3 linked regions of the Homo sapiens genome follow. The protein of the gene in region 2 purifies or fractionates together with the protein of the main gene of each other region. This does not show direct contact. Each region holds a gene or a part of one and is shown on either strand. Other genes may lie near its edges.

Region 1 (7,025 bases), on a different chromosome or scaffold from region 2:
GTGGATGGCCGGTTCTTCCTCCTGGAACTAAGAGCTGTGAAGAGCCGGTGAAGTCTTAGGGGGTGTGTGAGTGTGGGGTGTGGAGGCTGGGGAGGAAAATCAACCTGTGAAAATATCCAGGCTTGTGCAGAGATCATTTATTCACGAAGAGTTAATGAATGATTAACTAGAATAAATGATACTTACATTCCATCAGCCTCTTTTATTTTTCCCATGTGAAAACAAAGCCCTTCTTGGTTTGATTGCTTCTAAACGGAACTCAGAGGGTTCTGAGGATTTTAGGGACTTTGGTTATTTAGCTCAACTGTACCCCTAGCATGCACACAGAGACGTGGACAAGGAGCCCCCTAGAGCTGAAGGCTGGCCCTCTGCCTCTGCTAGGAGACATCTAATCACAAAGCCTTGGTAACTCACATTCCTCCAGGCATCCATTTCCATTTTTGGAGGAATGAAGTTTGTGCATTGGGAAGTGACTTGAGTTTAACTGAAATTCCAAACAAAAAGGCAGTGGTTCCTCTCATTTTTAAAGGTTTTGCTTGACAGCCATGAGGCACTGCATACCAATCAGTTCAGAAGTCAGGATCATAAGCAAATACCATTACAGGACAGTGACTGTAACACTCTGAGGATGGGGGTCATCTTACTGTGCACATGGTCATTAGTTGCACACACTATGTGGTTCTCAGAACTGACTGTTTGATACACTTTAATGCAGCTTAACCCAGTTTGTAGGGCTTTTCCCTCACTTTTGTAATTCTTAATATTTATACCTAGTATCTTTGTTAGTGGTGTTTTTTTTCCTGATATAAATATATTTAGTCCTTTTATATGCTGTCCTGGGAAAATAAAGACCTGGATTCTGGCCTTTTGACAGTCTCCTCTCTGGGTTTTCCTTGCTCTTTATCCCCAGCATATGTGAAGTATTTGTGCCACAAATGTACCAGCCTCTACTGCACAGAGCCAAGGCACACAGCACAGCCATCAGGACACAGAACCAGATCTCTACCCTGTTGATGGCTGGCTCTTCCTCCTGGGGCCAAGAGCTGTGAAGAGCCTGTGCCCCCACATTGGGAAGTCTTGGGGGAGTGTGAGTGTTGGGAGCGGGTGATTGTGGGGGAAAATCAACCTGTGAAAGGATCCGGGCTTGTGCAGAGTTTGTTTATTCACATATTCTCAAAGAGTGAGTAAGCGTCCGCTACGGGCAGTCGCTGAGTCTTCCGGGCACTTGGGATAGAGAAGCGGACAAAGGCCCTGCTGTGTTGCCCCTGTCATCTAGGGTTGGCCGTGCTTGGGCTGTGCTGGGGAGTCATCACACACTTCCTTCCCTGTCCCCGCTTCTTGGGAATAGGCCTTCAGCTGCCCAGACCCTGGCATGCCTTCGTTATTTGAGTTCAAAGACTGACCTCCCACTGGCTGTTCATGTTAGGAGGCGTCTGCACAGAGAACGCACACTCGGGGTCTGGAAGGCTGAATGTGTACACTTATGTGTTGGTGAGGCACTCCCCCTGCGTGGGCCCTGGCATTTGCCCCCAGTGTCTGAGGCTAAGCTAGGGTGGCGGAGGCTCTGTCAAAAGCTGAAAGAAGAGGGTCTGTGGGCAGAACTGGTTTGCCCTGTAGAGGAGAGGGAAGCCAGACCCTTGACTTAGGGGCGCAGAGTCGGTGTACCTATGGGTGGGAAGAAGACAGTTATCCAGGGATACTTACGGAAGGACATAAATCACCTGGAGTTTTGGGGAGATATGGATATGATCTCCGTTTAAAATATTTTATCCCATTTTAGCCTGTATCACCCAATGTGTCCTGATTTTTTGTTCTGAAAATATGCTCCCAGTAGAAGCAGTCAGACATGGTGCACACCTGTAGTCCCAGCTGCTCTGGACACCCAAGGCAGGAGCATCCCTTGAGCCCAGGAGTTTGCGTCCAGCCTGGCCAACATACTGGGACCCCATCTCTTAAAACAAACCAACAAACAAACAAAAGTTACCCAATCGAAGCTGGACACAGATGAGACATTTGCTAGCACAGGAATAACTGCGGGTAGAGGGTGGGATATAAGGAAAGGTGGCTTCCCCAAGTCATTTGTGCAGGCCAGTGAACAAAACATACTGGATCCAAGGTCAAATTCGTAGTGATTGTTCTATAGGGCTCTTTCTGTCCTGTTCTGTTTGGTGGGGGTGGGGAGTGATTTCAGAGTTCTTGTTATAATTAGTCACATGGATTACATTGGCGTTTTTCTTCATTGATTCTGCTGATCCATGCCCTCGAGCTCTCTGGTAGGCCTGTTGGGGAGGAGGGGAGCTCCTGTATTGGCATTGACTGGCAGATTATGGCTTGGCGTTCTTTTCCCAGATTACCTCATTTAATCCTTACAACAGCCCTGCAAGGGAAGTATCATTTTGCTTTTACAAATGAGAAAACTGAGGCTCAAAAAGGCTGAGTCATCTTCCCATGGCCACACAGCTAATCATTGTTCAGGGCTGAGTCTGTGCCTGATTCTGCTGAGACCATCAAGCCCTCATCCACTCCTACTCATCTCATCTGTCTGAGTCCATTGGGGGGCCTCACCGGCATTCCCTGTTGTCTGTTTGGCTGGGGAGGGGAGTGTCTGGCAGCCTCAGCGGGAAAGATGAGGGAGCAATCTGATCAAGACGGTCAGCGCATTATATTGAGAGTGTCAAAGCATCAGGCTTGTTTAGAGCCAGGAGTTGGGATTATTCCTAAGTTTTGGTTCCCCCACGGTCCTGGGTGGATATTTGCATGGGGTATGTCTGGGTTTGAATTTCAGACTTATTCTCGATTTTTTATTTCAGGATCTAACTTGGCAAGATGAGCACTCTGCCCCTTTCTCCTGGGAAACAAAGGTAAGTTGGATTAAATTTAGATCTATTTGTTCTTTTAAAAAGAACTGAGTAGTTGTATATTTTTCTTTCAGCATTTGATGGACTCAGAAGACAGCCCCCTGACTGCCAGGCTGCAGGGGATGTGTCCATTGTTGGTAGAAAAGGAGGGGATGGGAGGAGCATGGTGAGGAATTAGGAAACTATTGTGTGTGGTTTGGTGATAGTGAGTTCAAAGTAGTAGTGCTTTCTGCCAGGGTCCAATGACGCCCCATGATGCCCATTGTCTAGGACTCCCGGCCAGCTTGGTTAAGGGGGCCAGCCCTCTTGGGGGCCCTGTCTCTGCTCATACCTCTGGTTCCCAGCACTTAGCACCTTGATGGGAGATGCCCCATAAGACAAAGCTTTGAGCAAATGGGAGGTGACGAGCTGATTGATAGACATAGACATCCATTTAGCTAATTCATCCCAACGTGGATCACTAATTCTGTCTCCCAGTCATTCTTCTTCTCATCATTATCATCATCATCACCAGAGTTGCTTAAGAGCATCAAGCTTCACTGATTTTAATTCATTTTCCCCATCTCCTAAGTTGCCCCAGTAGAAGTACATTCATAAGCAAAATGACTAAAAGACAGGTGTCTTTAACCCAAGGGACAGAAATAAAAGACCAAGATTTTCTGAATTCTGGAACATTTGGTGATGTGTGTTGGAGGGTTCTTTACGTCATGAGAGTGTGTTACAGACAGAGACGGTGGTGAGCCTGGAATAGGGCTCGGACTGCTGGGCAGATCAGGGTTTTTAAATACTGATACCTCAAGGCACTTGTTTTTTGGTTTTTCACTTGTCCACATCATTGCTGATCAGAGCCCTCATCCCAGCAGGAGACCTATGAGGAGGGTGGGCCAGAGTGGTTCATGAAGGACCCTGAGAGGCCCTCATGTTGGCGACTGTGTCTTAAAATGAAATATTGCCCAAGGGTTCAGATGGACACAAGGACAGCTGACACTGTTCTTGGCACACAGACAGTATTTAGTAAGCTATTGCCGATTGCCCTGGGTGAAGTGAGCTGGCCTCAGGGCGTGGGAGCGTGGGACAATTGAGATGAGTGTTAGAGTTAAGAGGTGGTTTTGGGGAAGGCATGGCATTAATGTAGTCTCCCTAGGGATCGGGTACGGGTTGCAGGGGTGACCAGCACTGTCTTGGGAGAGAGCACAAGATGTTAAGGAGCCGCCTGCAATTGGAATAGCTTCTAAATCCAACACTGGATCCTGTGTCTACTGACATTGCAAAGGAAGTCATAAGTGGGTAAAAAGTGCATCATTACATTGATTCTTAGCCAGGGCCCTCAATATTCCTCTTCTATGGGCTCCCAAAATGGGTAATTGTGAGAAGTACTAATCCTATAGATGATATCTAGTGGTAATAGCCAGATAGATTCTCTGTGTGTTGGAAATGAGCAGCCTTGGGTATGGTGACCCAGAAAGCAGTGCAGATTTTCCTGGACTGGGTCTATATTTGAAGATATCATAGTGATAAAGGCAAAGGAAAGTAAAAAATAGTTAAAGTGTCCTAAGACCTAAGCTCATCATGTTCCCCACGAGAACATCTGTTCTCTTAAGAATTTAGCTTGTTAAATGTTCCTGAATCAGCTATTTGTGGGACAGGACATTTCATCTTTTATTAACTTGGCATAAATGACATTCTGGGACAAGGTGGTGCAGCTCCTGGAGTGGCCACTGATACAAGCACAGCTGCTGGGGCCAGAGTGGGAAACAGGTGCCTGGCGAAGATCTCGAGAAAAAAGAGAGCAAGTACAGTCCACTTGAATCACACTTGTGCTGAGAGGCTCATTGTCCACAGATGCCAGCATATCTGGTCCCTTAGGAACCAGTGTAAGTTGAGGAAGCTTGCTAAAATCTGGTTAATATGTGTCACCCATCAGAAATTGCATCCTTTTAGTAAAGTGTAGTCTTCATAGCTCAGAGTTGGCAGTTTCATTTCATACTCCTGTTAGATTAGAGTTCCAGTTTGTTTCACAAACTGTTGGGCTCACTCTGTGTCCTCACCTTCCTGTTTGATCTCTCGAGGTCAGACTTACTATAGTTTACTATTAGAAACGTCTAGGGGCAAAATAGAGCGTATCTCAGAGAGCAAGGGAGCTGTCCCTTCCTCCTTCTTCACTAGGCAGTGCCGAGTTTTAAAAAGCCCATCACTCATTCCTCCTTTGTCTTAACCCTGGAGTGCCCTGCCATCCTGCTTGAAGAGATTTGCCAAACTCTTCTTAGGACTTAAAGGCTTATAAGATCTTCATTGGAGAGCCACAAACAGGAGGTGGCTTTAGTGAAGGTAGGACCCCCTAATCTCCAATTGCAGGACTGGAGGGAGACTTGGACCCCATTTCTTGTTACCTCTCAACTGATGCCTTCCTCACTCTATCAGTTCTCTATAGATGCATAACAAACTTAATGGCTTGAAGCAGCATTTTATGTGCTCATGATTGTGTGGGTCAATGATCGGAGCAGGGCTCAGCTGGACTGTTCTTCCGTTGGCCTTGCCTGGGATCACTTATGTGTCATCTGATCGCCTGATGGGAGCTGGGTGCTCTGAGAACCTTGCTCACGTGTCTGGTTGGTGCTGGCTGTTAGCTGGGCCACATGTCTCCAGCAAGCCAGCCTGGACTTCTTCACACAGAGGTGGAGAGATCCGTGTGCGGGAACGGAAGCCTACGAGGACTCTTTTGAAGCTTAGGCTGGGCAATTGCATAGTATCACTTCTGCTCTGTTCTGCTGGTCAAATCAAGGCACAAGCTGGGCCAGATTCAATGTTTGAGGAAAGAGATTGCACCTCTTGATAGAAGAGCTGCAGAGAGTTTGCACCCATTTTAAATCTAAGATTGTATGATGTCATTCATTCCTTGGTTAACCTTGGCCATTTCTTTCCATTTTTAATTAATCACTCATTGATTTTTTTAAGTTTTATTTTTAATTGTGGCAAAATACACACAACATAAAATTTTCCATCTTAATCATGTTTATGTGTATAGTCTGGTGGCATTCAGTACATTCACATTTTTGTGTAAACATCACCATCATCCATCTCGAGAACTCTTTTTAAAAATTATTACTTTTTAATTGACAAATGAAAAATTGTGTATATTTATGATGTACAACAAGATGTTTTGATACGTGTGTACATTGTGGAATGATTAAGTCAAGCTAATCCACACCTCCAGAACTCATCTTGCAAGACTGAAACTCTGTTCCCATTAAAGAATGACTGCCCCCCACTCTCACTAGCCCATGGCAGCCACCATCTATTTTCTGTCTCTGAAATCATTCATTGATTTTTTTTTTCCAGTAGATATTTATTGTATACCCCGTTTATGTCAGACATTATGCTGCAGGCCCAGAGTTGAGCATATGCCACTTCTGTGCTCGAACAACAGCTCAGTGAGTGGACAGCTGTGTTTGGTGGCAAATCTCACTCAGCACAAAAGCTATAGCCACCGAGTCACTCCAGTCATTTTCTCCATACGTTTAACCCAAATTTGTACACATGTTGGGTAGATGTAACCTCATGCCCTTCTTCAGCTATTCAGTTCAACAGACATTTAGTGGATGCCAGCAGAGTGCCCAGCTCTGACTTCTCCATCCCCTGACGAATCTACCTACACAAGGGTAAGCCTGACCCAAGGTCATGGCCATGGGCAGAGTTAAGAATCGCAGGGATTTTTGGTTTCTCACCCAACTGCTGCACCTCTGTATGGGTTCCTTTCTCTTGGCCAGCCCATGACCATTCCACCTCCACAGAATGAGCTGCGGTTGTGCTTGGGACCTGTGGTCGCTGCCCCCATGCAACGCAGCTTTGATCAGGAGAGCTCGCTGCAGCCTCACAGTAGCAGCTGTGCACCCACCTGGTTTTCCAGCCTGTCCACCCTGCCTCGGTTGCCTCCTCTGAGGCTGATCGTGGCTGTGGTGCCTCTGTTACCCAGACTTCTTCCATCACAGAAGGGAGGCCTGCCTGTCCCAGAAGGGTGGGGGTGGTCGTGATTGTCATCTTTTCCACTCATCTATCAGCTTGGCAGGCGTGCCAGGGGAGAGGGGGCCAGTGGGGACCTAATGTTGCATTCCTGTCTCATGCTACTGCTGTTTCGAGAGGAAAAAACTCAGCACTTAGAAGGCTCCA
Region 2 (7,702 bases):
CACAGTGTCTGGGGAGACACAGCTGGGCTGAGGCTTGAGAGGCCAGGTGGGGTTGGGCTGTGGAGGCTGTGTGTCCAAGCTCAGGGAGAAGCTCCTTATCCTGCTGGCAGTGGGGAGCCATGGTGGGGTCTTGAGCAGGAGCAGGTCCAAGGGAGGGAGGGGTCACTCTAAGCAGCTTTGGAGGTGACACAGAGGGACATCAGTGAATGTTACCCTCGCCAGTGAGTGGCAGGAGGGGCAGGCAGGAGGCCTCTGAGCTGCCTTTAGGTTTGGGTTCATTCAGCAGGACTCAAACTGAGGTGCCATCCTGGAGAGAAGCTGGGACAACCCAGGCTCTGAGAAGCTGTCTTGCCTCCTTCTTCTCTCTTGTAATCTTCCCAACCTATTTCCCTCCTTTCTCAGGCCACCCCACATCCAGGGTCCCATCCCTCCCCACCCCTTCATCTCCCCTCCTCCAGCCCTGGGCCCAAGGACACACCTCCAGGGTCCCAGGCCCCCTCTGTCTGGGAGCCCCACCGAAGAGGACAGGTGTGGAGGTCTCTGACCTGCCCAGCAGCATTGCCTGGGCTAGGCCTGCATGTGGGAGAAGCAGAGCAAGCCACTGCATCACGGTCGGCAGCAGCTCTAAGCTCCAAACTTCCCTTCCTCTCTTCTATCTGTCTGTGCCTGCAGACCCCCAAAAGGGACAAATCAAAAGGCTTAATAAGCACCAGGATGGGGCCACCAGACCTCCTCTCTCTCCACCCCTCCCACCCTATTATCAGCCCTTCCGTCCCAACCTGAAAGATCAATAATGGTTTGGCAGGGAGAGGAGGCCAGGGCAGGAGGGCACGTCCCCGTGGCCTGGGGCTCCAGTTAGATGGCAGCCAGGCTGGAGCTGTCTGGGCAGGCTAGACAAAAAGAAACTTGGGAGCAGAGGCCCTCTGGTTTCCACCTGGCGTAAAGCTGAGTCTGCTGCTCACTTGCTGTGTAAGTTCCTTCCCTTCTCAGGCCTCAGTTTCCCCATCTGAAGAATGGGGGTGTTGGATAAGATGGCCTCTAAAGAGCCCTGTACCTCTGACTTTTGGACATTCTGTGTGTATGGACTCCGGAGCCCAAGGGCCTGGGTCCAAATCCCAGCTTCTCTGCTTACTAGCTGCGGGACCTTGGGCAAATTATCCAACCTCTTTGGGCCTCAGTTTCCTCACTTGTCAAAGGAGGATAAGAATTGAACATACTTCATAGGATGGCATGAAATGACATGTGCCAAGTGTCCGGCACAGGTAGGTGCTCAGTAAATGCGAGGTCAAGGCTTTGGGTGGAGGAGTTCAGGCTGAGGGCAAAGGCTCTTAGGATCCAGTATTTCAGATGAATGTGGGCCAGGGACGGGCGCGGTGGTTCACGCCTATAATCCCAGCACTATGGGAGGCCGAGGCGGGTGGATCACCTGAGGTCAGGAGCTTGAGACTAGCCTGGCCAACATGGTGAAACCCCGTCTCCACTAAAAATACAAAAATTAGCTGGGCGTGGTGGCAGGTGCCTCTAATCCCAGCTACTCAGGAGGCTAAGACAGGAGAATCGCCTGAACCCGGAAGGCGGAGGTTGCAGTGAGCCGAGATCACATCACTGCACTCCATCCTGGGCAAGACTCCCCATGGAAAAAAAAAAAAAAAGAGCAGAGGACAGGGGATGCACGCGGAACCAAGAGCTTCGGGAGCTACACACCAGGGCCCGTGCACCCTGCCAAGCCACTCCAAGGGGAAAGACTGTATCTCTCCCCTTCATTCAGCCATCCACAAACACCCCACACCCCCAAGCCAGGAACCCCAAGCAGGGAGGCAGCCCCAGGTGATGACTGTGCAGGGAGCTGAGCGACCACATGAGGGCAGTGGAGACTCGATCAGGACCGCATAGGATTTGGCCTTAGGATGGGGGTGGGATGTGAGAAAATGGGGAGAGGGGTGAGGCCAGGGGGCCTTGGAGTAGGCGGAGGCTGGAGAGTGGTTGCCTGTCCACAGACTCCCCATTCATGTCACATGTGGTATTCGTCATCCATGCAAGTATTTGTTCCTTTATTCATTTCTTCAGTTTGTTTATTCTTCTAAGCCAGCCCCTCTGCCGTCCATCCTTCCGTCTTTCCTTCCTCTCTTTCTCACTCTGTTTTTTTCTTTCTTGTCCCTTTGGTTTGTCTGGCCAGGAGATCAACTGGGCATACCGTCCTGAGCCACAGCTGGGTGCCAGCCTGAGAGAGGCACTCCTCTAGGGGATACGGTGAGCCTTGGCCCCTGCCCTTGAAGGGTTCAGGGCAGTAGGCCACGGTGCTGGGCTCCCCACAGATCTGGGCCTGGGGTTGGTGGGGCCTCGAGGGGCCTAAGTCTCCCACAGGCTGCAAGTCCTGAGAAGCCTCAGTAAACACTAAAACAGTAAACAGTACCCTGGCCAGGCAGACTGTGTGACCTGGGCCACCACTCTAAAAATAAATTCCAGGAAAACAGTATGGTCCCAGGTCCAGCAATGTCTGAGATTCAGGGACATTCCCTGCCAACCAGAGCCGATTTCTGTGGCCTGGTGACTAAGCTCCCTCTCGCAGGAGCGTAAGCATGGTGGGGGAGCGGAGGCTGGGGCTTGACGTCAGGAGATTGAATCCTTGCTGTGTCCTGCTGGTCTAAGACACCCCTCTGCCTCTCTCTGAGGCTCAGTTCCCAAATCTGTAAAATGGGAGGAAGCAGGTCATCTGCTTGGTCTACCTCGTGGTCTGAGAGCTAAATGAAATTGCAATTGTGCAGATGAGGCGTGATGGAGGGAGACCACCTGGCTTTGGGGTCACGCCTGGATCCAAATTCTAGTTCAGCCTCTTACTAGCTGTGGATGTTAGTCAACAACTTAGCCTCTCTGGGCCTCAGGCTCCTCATCTGTGAAATGGAGCTAAGAGTCCCTACCTCCTAGGGAACAGTGCCTACACGTGGCTTGCAATCCACTAATGGGTGTTGTTATTATTAGGAAATGTTCAGTGAAACTGTATAGCATGACAAACATCAAGTGTGTCATTACAGAGATTATCCCTATAGCAACCAAGGCCAAACGCCTCTGCCTGACTCTCAGCTCCCTCCACCCCCAGTCTGGCCCCACCTGCCTTCCAGCCTTGCCACCCAAGGCCTGACGACAGCAGCAGTTGGGAGGAAGATGCTGACAGCTGATCCGAGGGGGTGGGGCCCCTCTCACCACTCCTTGGGGCGGGGAGCCCTGCTCTGGAGCTACCTGCCCAGCCCAGTGTCAAGTCACTGCCGAGCCCTGTGGCAGTTTCGGGGAGGAAGGGGCACCTGGAAAGGCAGAGCTGTGCTGGGGAGGATCCTTCCCTCCAAGTGGGGCTCCATCCAGCCTGCAGACCACAGCCCGGAGCGGGAGCCGGGCAGAGGAGTCAAGGAGCTGGGCTCTGCCTCTCCACCTAGTGACTCCTGCCCTGGCTGCCTCTTTAGACCACAGTGAGTTTAAAGGAGGTTGAAGGTGCTTTTTCACCTGCCTGACTTGGAACTCCATGAGGGGGGATGTCATGACCAGCATAAATTAGGGGGAACCTAATGACGTCTGCCCCTTGTTCTTTTAAGCTTCAATAGAAACACTCAGTCCAAGATCTGGGAAGACCCTTGTGCCCATTTTTAAAAGATTTCAACTCTGGCCATTAGGAGAAGTGGAGAGATCAGGTGACAATGAGTTCCCAGTTCAATGCTGGATTTACTGCTGGCATCCAACGTGCTCCACTGAGCAAGCACCAGCTCCTCATGCTGCACCACTGTGCAAGCGAGCCTCACCCTCTGCGGGGGCGGGGTGGGGGGGCAGCATTCCGCTCCGGCCTCCGCAGCTTCGCACGTGCCGCTGTCTCCGGTGGAACACCTTTTCCCTCCCCCATCTGACTGTGTTTCACTTTTTCCTCAAGACTCTGAAAGGTTTCCTGACTCCCTCAACGTGGGCGAGGAGCTCTTTTCCCCTACTCCCGTCCCGCTGCCTGTCCCTACTCCCGTTGTAGTTCTGATCACACTGATGTCCTGCGTGTCTACCATTCTAAGCCGTGGGCTTCTCAAGGCAGGGCCTGGATTTTGTCTTAAACAGTTCAGGGTCCCCGGGCCCTTGGGCACCAGGGGGACATCTCATGGTGCAATAATAAGAAACACTCACACTTTACAGAGGGAAGGTTCTATCGCTTTCCCTAGATCGTGGCCAGCCACGGTGTCAGGTGGCTGCCCACCTGCAGCAGAGCTTCCTGGTGCTGCGGGAGGGGGCAGGCCAGGCCTGGTGGGGCCAGTGAAGGGGGTCATCCCCTTCCCACCTGGCATGAAACGCCTGTGTTGTGCTGCGTCCTGAGACCCCTGGGGAAATGCACCATTCATTCATTCATTCATTCATTCACTAAAGGTCACTGGCTCCTGCCTGGGATCTGGGACCCAGCCCCTGAGCACACCCCCGCCCCCACTGTCATGGTCCCGCTGTTTGTCTTCTCCCTTCCGACCTCCCGTGGCCCCAGCGCGGCCAGCTCACAGTAGGTGCTCGGGCAGCGTTTCTTCAGGGACCTAGACGGCCTGGAGAGGAAGGGCCCCAGCCCAGCCGCCCGGGCCTCTCACCTGGCTCTCGGGGCGCCCGGCTCGCACTTCCTCCCGCCGCCCCGCCCCTTCCACATTCCTGCCCCGCCGGGCCTGCCCCGCGCAGTCTGGGTCTCTGCGCCGCAGCCGCCCGCCCGCCCGCTCAGCGCCCGGCCCCGGGATGACGGCGGCCCAGGCCGCGGGTGAGGAGGCGCCACCAGGCGTGCGGTCCGTCAAGGTGGTCCTGGTGGGCGACGGCGGCTGCGGGAAGACGTCGCTGCTGATGGTCTTCGCCGATGGGGCCTTCCCCGAGGTGAGTGCCCCGCGCCTCCGCCTCGCCCGGTTCCGCTCGCGCGCCCGGGTGTACAGGTCCGTGCCGGAGCGGCCCAGGCTGTGCGCCTAACCCGGCCTCCGAGGGGTGTCCCAGCGGGGCCTGGGGTCCAGGGCAGAGTTCTTCCGCCCCAGCCATTGGGAATGAAGGCCTCAGTGATGTTATCTGTAAAGCCGGAGGAATGGCATCCACCGGGGAGAGGTGTCACAAGGACTGAGTGAGGCGACCTGGGTGCACACAAGATCCTAAGACAGCACTTGGCCACACAATTCCGCTGAGGGCCTGAGAGCTTGGAAGCCAGACTGCCGAGGTTCAAATTATGGCTTTGCCTCTTATAGCTGTGTGCCCTTGGGTAAGTCCCCTAACCCTGCTGTGCCTGTGTCCCTCACTACATCACAGGTGAGTGACAGTGCCCACCACACAGGGTCACTGTGACAGAGAGTTAATAGACCTCAAGCACTCAGCCCCGGCCTGTGCACAGGAAGGACTCACGGAGAGTTGGCACATGTCGCTCCTGGGAAACATTGTCTCCCTTCCAGCTCTTGCCGCTGGAAAGCACATGCCATGGGCTCTGCCTTGGAGGGTGGGAGCACGCCAGCTGTAGCCTCAGCTGCTGGGCCCGCGTCTCTGCTCTCCTCTGAGCCCCGTGCCCTTTTGTAACCTGCTTAGCTTCTCTGAGCCTCAGTTTCCTCACAACAACCCCATGGGGTAGAGGGACTGTAGGGCAGTGGTGAAGTGGAGCCCAGGGGAGGCTGACAGGCAGCTCCCGTGCGGTAGCTGGCATGTCCTTGGCGCTGTAGGCATGCCCACCGTTAATCCTTCCTGACATGCTCACTGACTGCCCAGGCAGACTCCACGGGCACCAGGCGGCCCCTGCTCTGCCGCCTCTCAGCCCTGTTGTCCTGGGAGTCCATGGAGTTGCTTCCAGCATCTCTTCTTTTTTTTTATTTTTATTTTTTTTGAGAAGAGTCTCACTCTGTCACCCAGGCTGGAGTGATATTGGCACAATCTCAGCTCACTGCAACCTCCGCCTCCTGGGTTCAAGCGATTCTCTTGCCTCAGCCTCCTAAGTAGCTGGGATTACAGGCGCCCACCACCACGCCTAGCTAATTTTTAAAATTATTTTATTTTATTTTATTTTTGAGACGGAGTCTCGCTCTGTCGCCAGGTTAGAGTGCAGTGGCACAATCTCGGCTCACTGTAACCTCTGCCTCCCAGGTTCAAGCGATTCTCCCGCCTCAGCCTCCCGAGTAGCTGGGACTACAGGCGCGTGCCACCGTGCCCAGCTAATTTTTGTATATTTTTAGTAGAGACAGGGTTTCGCCATGTTGGCCAGAATGGTCTCGATCATTTGACCTGGTGATCCGCCCACCTTGGCCTCCCAAAATGCTGGGATTACAGGTGTGAGCCACCACACCCAGCCAATTTTTTTATTTTTAGTAGAGATGGAGTTTTGCCATGTTGGTCAGGCTGGTCTCGAACTCCTGGCCTCAAGCGATCTGCCCGCCTCGGCCTCCCAAAGTGCTAGGATTACTGGCCTGAGCCACCGCAACTGGCATTCTTCCTCCTTTTCTTCCCAGCATCCTCTAAGCCCCTGGGGTTGTATAGGTGCTGGAGCATCTGAGCACAAGCAGGACGGTCGGGCCTACCCCAGTTCTTATCACACTGTAGTTCTTATCAGGATGATATCTGTCTGCCTGTCTCCCACCCTTGGCCCATGTGCTTTCTGCTGCAGTGGCATTGAGCCACTTTTGTTTAGTAGCTTGCGGAGCTGGTGTCACCTCCTTTGACCAGTCATACATTTTTTTAAGTTGGGGGAAACATGTTTCTGGGCCCCTAGATGCTGCCCATGGGAACCCAACAATGAGGGCACCCGGGGAAGAGCACCACACAGGGACAGGTGGCCCAGGCCCAGGGGAAGGCACCTGATGGGCGGGGGCTGGAGGGCTGATGCCTCACCACCAGCTCTGAGATGTCCTTGATGGTGAGACCATCCCAACTTCAGAGGAGTTATGACGTGGAAATGGGCCTCTTCCAGTTGATAAGATGTGAATGCTTTGAGGGACATGCTGGGGCTGGCCAGAAATGGGGGGAGGGCATGCTTATCACCAGGAAAATGGGCTGGATTTGTCCAGGCTCCTCCCGTCTGGGGGCTCTGAGTTCCCTGGAGCAGGAGAGTCCTCTTCATTTAAAGAACCCACAATGGGCCGGGCGTAATGGCCCACACCTGTAATCCCAGCTCTCTGGGAGGCCAAGGTGGGTGGATCACCTGAGGTCAGGAATTCAAGACCAGCCTGGCCAACATGGTGAAACCCCATGTCTACCGAAAATACAAAAAAAATTACCCGGGCATAGTGGCAGGCGCCTGTAATCCCAGCTACTCGGGAAGCTGAGGCAGGAGAATCGCTTGAACTCAGGAGGTGGAGGTTGCAGTGAACCGAGATCGCGCCATTGCACTCCAGCTCGGGGACAACAGAGCGAGACTCCGTCTCAAAATATATATAAATATATATATATATATGTAATTAAATAAATTAATTAAAAGAACCCACAACGTGTAAGAGTTGGAAAGGCTTCATTTTGCAGATGGGAAAACTGAGTCCAGAACCCAGAGGCTTACCTGGGGGCACATGGCCCGGCAGTGGCAGCACTGATCTAGAGCCCAGGTCTTCCCCCTCCCGACCAGGGCCTTCTCCACAGCCCCCAGTGCTCTGCCTGCTGGACCCAGCCTCCTCCTGCCCCTGTCCCTAGCACCAGACTCTTCCTCTAGGCAGCCCTCGAAGCCCAAGGGGCCAGCAGCCAGGAGGCTGGAGTCCCA
Region 3 (7,025 bases), on a different chromosome or scaffold from region 2:
TTGAGACCAGCCGGGGCAACATAGGGAGACCTTGTCTCTACAAAAAATAAAAAATTAGCCAGGTATGCTGGCACACACTTGTGGTCCCAGCTACGCAGGAGGCTGAGATGGGAGGATTGTTTGAGCCCAGGAGTTTGAGGCTGCAGCGAGCCATGATCTTGCCACTGCACTCCAGCCTGGGCAACAGTGTAAGATCCTATCTCAAAAAAAAAGTGAGGGGGCAGGTGCCGTCACTCACACCTGTAATCTCAGTGCTTTGTGAGGCCAAGGCAGGAGGATTGCTGGAGGCTAGGAGTTCAAGACTAACCTGGCCAACATAGCAGGACCCCATCTTTATAAAAAATAAAAAAAAAATTAGTTGGGCATGGTGGTACATGCCTGTGGTCCCAGCTACTTTGGAGGCTGAGGTAGGAGGATTGCTTGAGCCCAGAAGTTCGAGGCTGCCGTGAGCTACTATTGCACTACTACACTCCAGTCTGAGTGACAGAGACCCTGTCACCAAGAAAATTTGTTTACTAAATTTAAAAAAACAGTTTTTATTAATATCATCCGTAATATTTGTGTTAACAAAAACAATTCCAATTATATGTTTGGCAAGTGGGTCCTCCAATCTAGTAATAGCATAGTCTCTTTTTTTTCTTATATAGCAGGGCTCCCCTACCCCCAGGCTGAGGACTGGTACCAGTGTGTGGCCTGTAACAGGGAACCGGGCCACACAGCAGGTTAGCGGTGGGTAGTGAGCATTACTGCCTGAGCTCCATCTCTTGTCAGATCAGCCATGGCATTAGATTCTCATAGGAGTGCAAACTCTTGTGAACTGTGCATGCACCAGATCTAGGTTGCATGCTCCTTATAAGAAACTAACTAATGCCTGATGATCTGAGGTGGAACAATTTCATCCCAAAACCATCCCCCTCTCCCCAGTCTGTGGAAAAACTGTCTTCCACGAAACGGGTCCCTAGTGCCCAAAAGGTTGGGGACCGCTGTTATATAGTATCTTAATTCTAAATTAGAAGTTCATCATTTGGCCAGGCACGTTGGCTCACACCTGTAATCCCAGCACTTTAGGAGGCCGAGGCGGGCAGATCACCTGAAATCAGGAGTTTGAGACCAGCCTGGCCAACATGGTGAAACCCCATCTCTACTAAAAATACAAAAAATTAGCTGGGTGTGGTGGTGGGTGCCTGTAATCCCAGCTACTTGGGAGGCTGAAGCAGGAGAATCGCTTGAACCCAGGAGGCGGAGCTTGCAGTGAGCCAAGATTGTACCACTGCACTCCAGCCTGGGTGACAGAGCGAGACTCTGTCCCCCCAAAAATAAGAAGTTCATCATTTTGAGCTGGGCACACTGGCTCACACCTGTAATCCCAGCACTGTGGGAGGCTGAGGCGAGCGGATCACCTGAGGTCAGGAGTTCAAGACCAGCCTGGCCAACGTGGTGAAACCCCATCTCCACTAAAAATACAAAAATTAGCCGGGCATGGTGGCAGGCACCTGTAATCCCAGCTATTCGGGAGGCTGAGGCAGGAGAATCGCTTGAACCCGGGAGGCGGAGGTTGCAGTGAGCCAAGATCGTGCCATCACACTCCAGCCTGGGGGACAAGAGTGAGACTTCGTCTCCCAAAAAAAAAAAAAAAAAAAAAAAGGAAATTCATCATTTTATGCAGAGATTATATAGTAAATTCCTAACTGGTCTTCCTGCCTCTTGATTTTTCTCCAGTAGATCCTGTATTCTTCTGCCAGATTAATCCTCATAAAATGCCATTTATATCACCTCAGTGACACACCCTAGTTGCTTATCAGGCTGAGTTCTAATGCCTCATACTGGCATTTAATTCTCTGCCTATCTCTCCTGAGATAACAAACTGGATTTATTCTACCTCTGCTTTGTTTAAAGCTGTTTTTACCTTGTGATTGTTCCCATAAATTGTCTACTCTTTGTCTTTAAACTAGGCCATCCTGCTACTCTATGAACTTATTGTCTGTAATTTTGGTATTATTCTGAAGTGTTGCCTTATTTGTTAATTGATTCTTGGATCTCTTTTATTTCATCAAGTGAAATATAAACTGAAGGCAGGTCCAGAGTCTGATTCGTTTTTTCACTCCCTTCTTCTGCACACCCAACAATGTAAGATAAGACTAGGTGCTTAGTACATATTTATTGGTCGCTGAGTCACCCATACTGTTTTCAATCATAGGATATTAATATGATTCTCTCAATGATGGATATCAACCCAGGTGATACTGTTTTGGAAGCTGGCTCAGGCTCTGGTGGAATGAGCTTATTTTTATCCAAAGCAGGTAAGAGATTGGACTGAGCTGGATCTCAGTAACAAAGAAAACATTCAATTTGTTCATAATAACAGAAAGGTATAAAGATATTTGGGAAAATACCTAACATTGAGGTAGCATTCTCCTAGAATCTGAAAGTAAGCAACTATTTTTCTTTCCATTCTGTACATTTATTCCAGTCAGTCTCTTTCTAATCCTCCCTCAATTTTCTTTGCTTTGTTTTACTTTCTCCATGCTCTCTAATGCTGCTTCTTTTTTCTTAAGTATACTTTTTATTGGAATATAATATGGCTACAGAAAAGTGTGCAGATCATAAGTGTATATCTCAATGAATCTTTGTATAGTGACCACTCATGTACTTATTACCGAGATCAAGGTAGGGAGTGTCCCTGCCCCACAGATGCCTCCTCATGTCCCCTCCCAGTCCTTATCATCACCAAAGGAAACCACTATTGTGACTTTTATCATCACTGATTAGTTTTGCCTCCTTCGAACTTATATAAAATGGAATCATACAGTATGTGCTCCTTTGTATCTGGCTACTCTCATTCATTATTATGTTTGTGAGATTCACTCATTGCATGCAGCAGTAGTTCTTTCATTTTAGTTGCTGTATAATACTCTCTATTTAAATCACAATTTACCTATTTTACTGTTGATAGACATTTGAGTTGGATATTACAAATAGTGCTGCTTGGAACCTCCTTGTGTACTTGTCATGTTATTGTTGAATACTAGTGCCAGGTGAATACTTAGCCTGAGGGAATATGGAAGGACGTTGTCAGCTGTTGGGGGGAGAGTTATATATCGTTAGGGCCAAAGAATTATAGTAGGTGTTCATAAAGAAATTAATCATAGTACAGAGCTATTAAGTAAAAAGCTAGATCATGAAGAATTATCTTTTTTTTTTCCAGAAAGTCTCTAAAAATTGTCAGTTGGTAAAAGTACTGCTTGAAGGTGGGTGTCTGATCAAAAATCAAGAGGTGTATATTAAACATATATATTTTTTCATGTTCCTACCACTTAATTTCTAGTTACTTTTATGCTAGTTGATTAGTACCTCTTTGCCTACCTAATTTCTCTGAGTGTCAGGGTTGCTTTGGGTGGTCTGTCTGTGCAGTGTTCTCTTCCCTACATAATACTAGACTGCTGAATAGTCACAGTACTTTCTTTGAGTAGATTTTATAAAGATTACAGATAGAAATATGCTGAAATTAAACTCACACCTTTTGTTCTTTGACCTAATGTCTTCACATATGAATATTATCTAGATTATACTAAGCCGGTAAATTCATTCTGGGCTCCTCAATCAATCTTTTGTTTGACTTTTCTGTACATAGTTAAAGGCAGTCATTTTCTCATCATCTATGACAAATTCCTAACTGCACGGTTTCATTTGACAAAGTGGATTTATAAAAATTGGTGAGAACAGATAAGTGCCTATATTTCTAAAATATATAGTATCAGAAGAGTGTCATGGCTTGAATAATCCTAAACTATAAATGTGCAAGAACTTATTGCTATTTACCTATGTGATGGATATTTTTCTCCATATTTTCTTTTCCAGTTGTTTATGTTACTTTTTTTTTTTTTTTGAGGCGGGTTCTCACTCTGTTCCCCAGTTTGGAATGCAGTGGTATGATCGTGGCTCACTACAGCCTTGACCCTCGGAACTCAAGTGATCCTGTCGTCCCAGCCTCCCAAGTAGGTGGGACAATAGGCACATACCACCAAAGCTGGCTAATTTTTAAAGTTTTTGTAGAGACTGGGTCTCACTGTTGCCCAGGCTGGTCTTGAACTCCTGGCCTCAAGCAATCTTGCCTAAGCCTCCCAAAGTGCTGGGATTACAGGCATGGGGCACCACGCCCAGCTTATGTTACTATTAAAATTAATTTTTATCTCCTGAGAACCTGATAACTTGCAGTTGGAGTTACATTTCAAAAGATACCTTGGAATTTAAACTTCATTAGTAAACTGTAAACTGATTGATCTGGGATAATCTCCAAATGGTATCAAATCACTTCAGATAGAGGTGGGTGGAAAGTTAATTGCCTTAAGTTAAAATGTAGTACTCCTCTCTGGAATTGCAGTATTACTGTGCTAATTAGTTTAAAAGTTCTTCACATACACACACACACACACACACACACACACACACACAAATACAAATACCTTTAATTTTTTTTTTTTATTTTTTGGTAGAGACAGGGTTTCACCATGTTGGCCAGGCTGGTCTCGAACTCCTGACCTCAAGTGATCTGCCTGCCTTGCCCTCCCAAAGTGCTGGGATTACTGTGGCGAGCCACTGTATCCGGCCACAAATACCTTTTAAATATATGAAAGACTCAACCTCATCCATAATAAAAGAAATGCAAGTTAAAATTACATTAAAAGGCTGAGCATGGTGGCTCACGTCTGTAATCCCAGCACTTTGGGAGGCCGAGGCAGGCAGATTGCTTGAGCTCACGAGTTTGAGACCAGTCTGGCAACATGGCGAAACCCTGTCTCTACCAAAAATACAAAAAGTTAGCTGGGTGTGGTGGCACACACCTGTCGTCCCAGCTGTTCAGGAGGCTGAGGTGGGAAGATCGCTTGAGCCTGGGAGGTGGGGGTTGCCGTGAGCTGTGATTGCACCACCGCACTCCAACCTGCGTGACAGAGTGAGATCTTGTCTCAAAAAAAAAAAAAAAAACCAAACTCAAAAATCTACATTAAAAATGATAAACTTTATTCACTTTTTAGATTGATACAGATAAAAAGTTCAATAACTTAGGGAGAGTATGGAGATACAGGTATTCTTTTTTTTTTTTTTTTTTTTTTTGAGACGGAGTCTTGCACTGTCACCCAGGCTGGAGTGCAGTGGCGCATCTTGGCTCACTGCAATCTCTGCCTCCCAGGTTCACGCCTTTCTCCTGCCTCAGTCTCCCGAGTAGCTGGGACTACAGGCATGTGCCACAACACCTGGCTAATTTTTTGTATTTTTTTTAGTAGAGACAGGGTTTCACCGTGTTAGCCAGGATGGTCTCAATCACCTGACCTCATGATCTGCCCGCCTCGGCCTCCCAAAGTGCTGGGATTACAGGCGGGAGCCACTGCGACCGGCCTGAGATACAGGTATTCTAATACATTGCTGGTTGGCATATAAGTTGACACCACTTACGTGGAGGACAATGTAATATTATGTGAATAAATTCACATACCCCTTGAGCCAGCAATTCCATTTTTAGGACTTTATCCTGTAGAGATATACTGGCTTGATACAAAGACTTAGGTATAAGAATTTTCATTGCAGTATTGTTTATATTAGCATATGACTAGAAACAAGCTAAATGTTCATCGTAGCCATACAGTGAATATAATGCCTGTTAAAAAAGAATGCAGTACATCTAGAAGCACTGAAATGACATTGGTAAGTAAGAAGGAAGGTACAGGACAGTGTGTATAATACACCACAGTGTGTATTAAAAACACAGAGAGATACTTGGCATGCTTGTATAGGCAGTGACTATCATGGGAAAGGTAAATAGCTGGTAATGTGGTTGCCTCTGAAGAGGGAGGGAGATTAATTGGAGATCAGGGATAGGAGATCAGACTTGTAACATTGAACTATTTGAATTATTTTTTTCACATACATGTAGTACCTTTGCAAAATACATTTTTGACACTTTTTAATAAACTGATTAATATTATGAAATATCAAATTATTTTTTACTTAAGTTGGATCACAAGGACGAGTCATAAGTTTTGAGGTACGAAAAGACCACCATGATCTGGCTAAGAAGAATTACAAACACTGGCGTGATTCATGGAAATTAAGTCATGTAGAAGAGTGGCCAGACAATGTGGATTTTATTCATAAGGACATTTCAGGAGCAACCGAAGACATAAAATCTTTAACATTTGACGCAGTAAGTTTTCTAACGTGGGTCCTGTGTTATTACTTTGACTATAAAGAAGATAGGGGTCAGGCTTCTTTTGTATGGGCAAAGGTCTTCCTTCGTTTGCTTCATGTCTATCTCTAGGGATTGAAAGAATATTTTCGTTTCATGCCTTTTAATCTCATGGTGGGATTTGGGACAGAGAGACATACTGAGTTACCGAGTTGGGTGCTGAAGTTGTCATTGAATGTGGGGTAATGACTGAAAGCTAGGACCAAAGACTAGTTGAGCATCATGAACCTCAGCATTTCTAGGATGAATCATACTTTGGAAGCAGCATTGGAAGCATATTGAACCCGGCACCTAACCTGAACTGTGAGATTTGGGGGAATAAGTAGCTTCCATTTGACAGGGAATAGGCAGAAGGCATCTTTAGTTAGTTGAAGTCAGGATATCAAGGGGAGTGTGTTCATTGAAGATGTCGAGGACAGAGGTGTTTATCATGAACAAAGCTCCAGAAAGTGGAGCAGAGACATTGTGAGGAAGAGAAACACTGGGAAGTTGACTTAGGGAAAAGAAGCAGAGAAGATGAAAGTAAAAAGATAGATGACAAGAGAGGATACATTAAGCTGCGATCAAACATGGTGGAGATCTGGGACATGGAAGTATTTGCTGGCTGAAGAGTTTCAGAATTCCTTGGTGATGCCACTTCACAGTTCATAGCTTCACACTATGGACTGAGGCCTTGGTTAGGAGTCTTTCTTCCTTTCCTTAATTGGCTGCTGGAAGGATGGACTGTTTTGGTGAGAAATGAAGCAAAGTTCAAAGAGGAGAGAAAATCTTTTTTTTTTTTTTT

Evidence for each region. Proteins that work in one complex are often made in the same cells at the same time.
Region 1: the proteins of RHOD (region 2) and C1orf198 purify together in Homo sapiens (affinity purification with mass spectrometry; 4 studies listed by BioGRID and IntAct, with this or other methods). This does not show direct contact.
Region 3: the proteins of RHOD (region 2) and TRMT61B purify together in Homo sapiens (affinity purification with mass spectrometry; 4 studies listed by BioGRID and IntAct, with this or other methods). This does not show direct contact.

Annotation. Positions count from the first base shown.
Region 1 is NC_000001.11:230,851,504-230,858,528, reverse strand, and holds part of C1orf198 (uncharacterized protein C1orf198), read left to right. Parts: intron 1-2,521; exon of another isoform or gene 2,522-2,651; intron 2,652-2,810; coding exon 2,811-2,861; intron 2,862-7,025.
Region 2 is NC_000011.10:67,052,169-67,059,870, forward strand, and holds the start of RHOD (rho-related GTP-binding protein RhoD), read left to right. Parts: upstream 1-4,678; 5' UTR 4,679-4,734; coding exon 4,735-4,866; intron 4,867-7,702. UniProt on the Homo sapiens protein: Involved in endosome dynamics. May coordinate membrane transport with the function of the cytoskeleton. Involved in the internalization and trafficking of activated tyrosine kinase receptors such as PDGFRB.
Region 3 is NC_000002.12:28,860,292-28,867,316, reverse strand, and holds part of TRMT61B (tRNA (adenine(58)-N(1))-methyltransferase, mitochondrial precursor), read left to right. Parts: intron 1-2,197; coding exon 2,198-2,300; intron 2,301-6,008; coding exon 6,009-6,199; intron 6,200-7,025.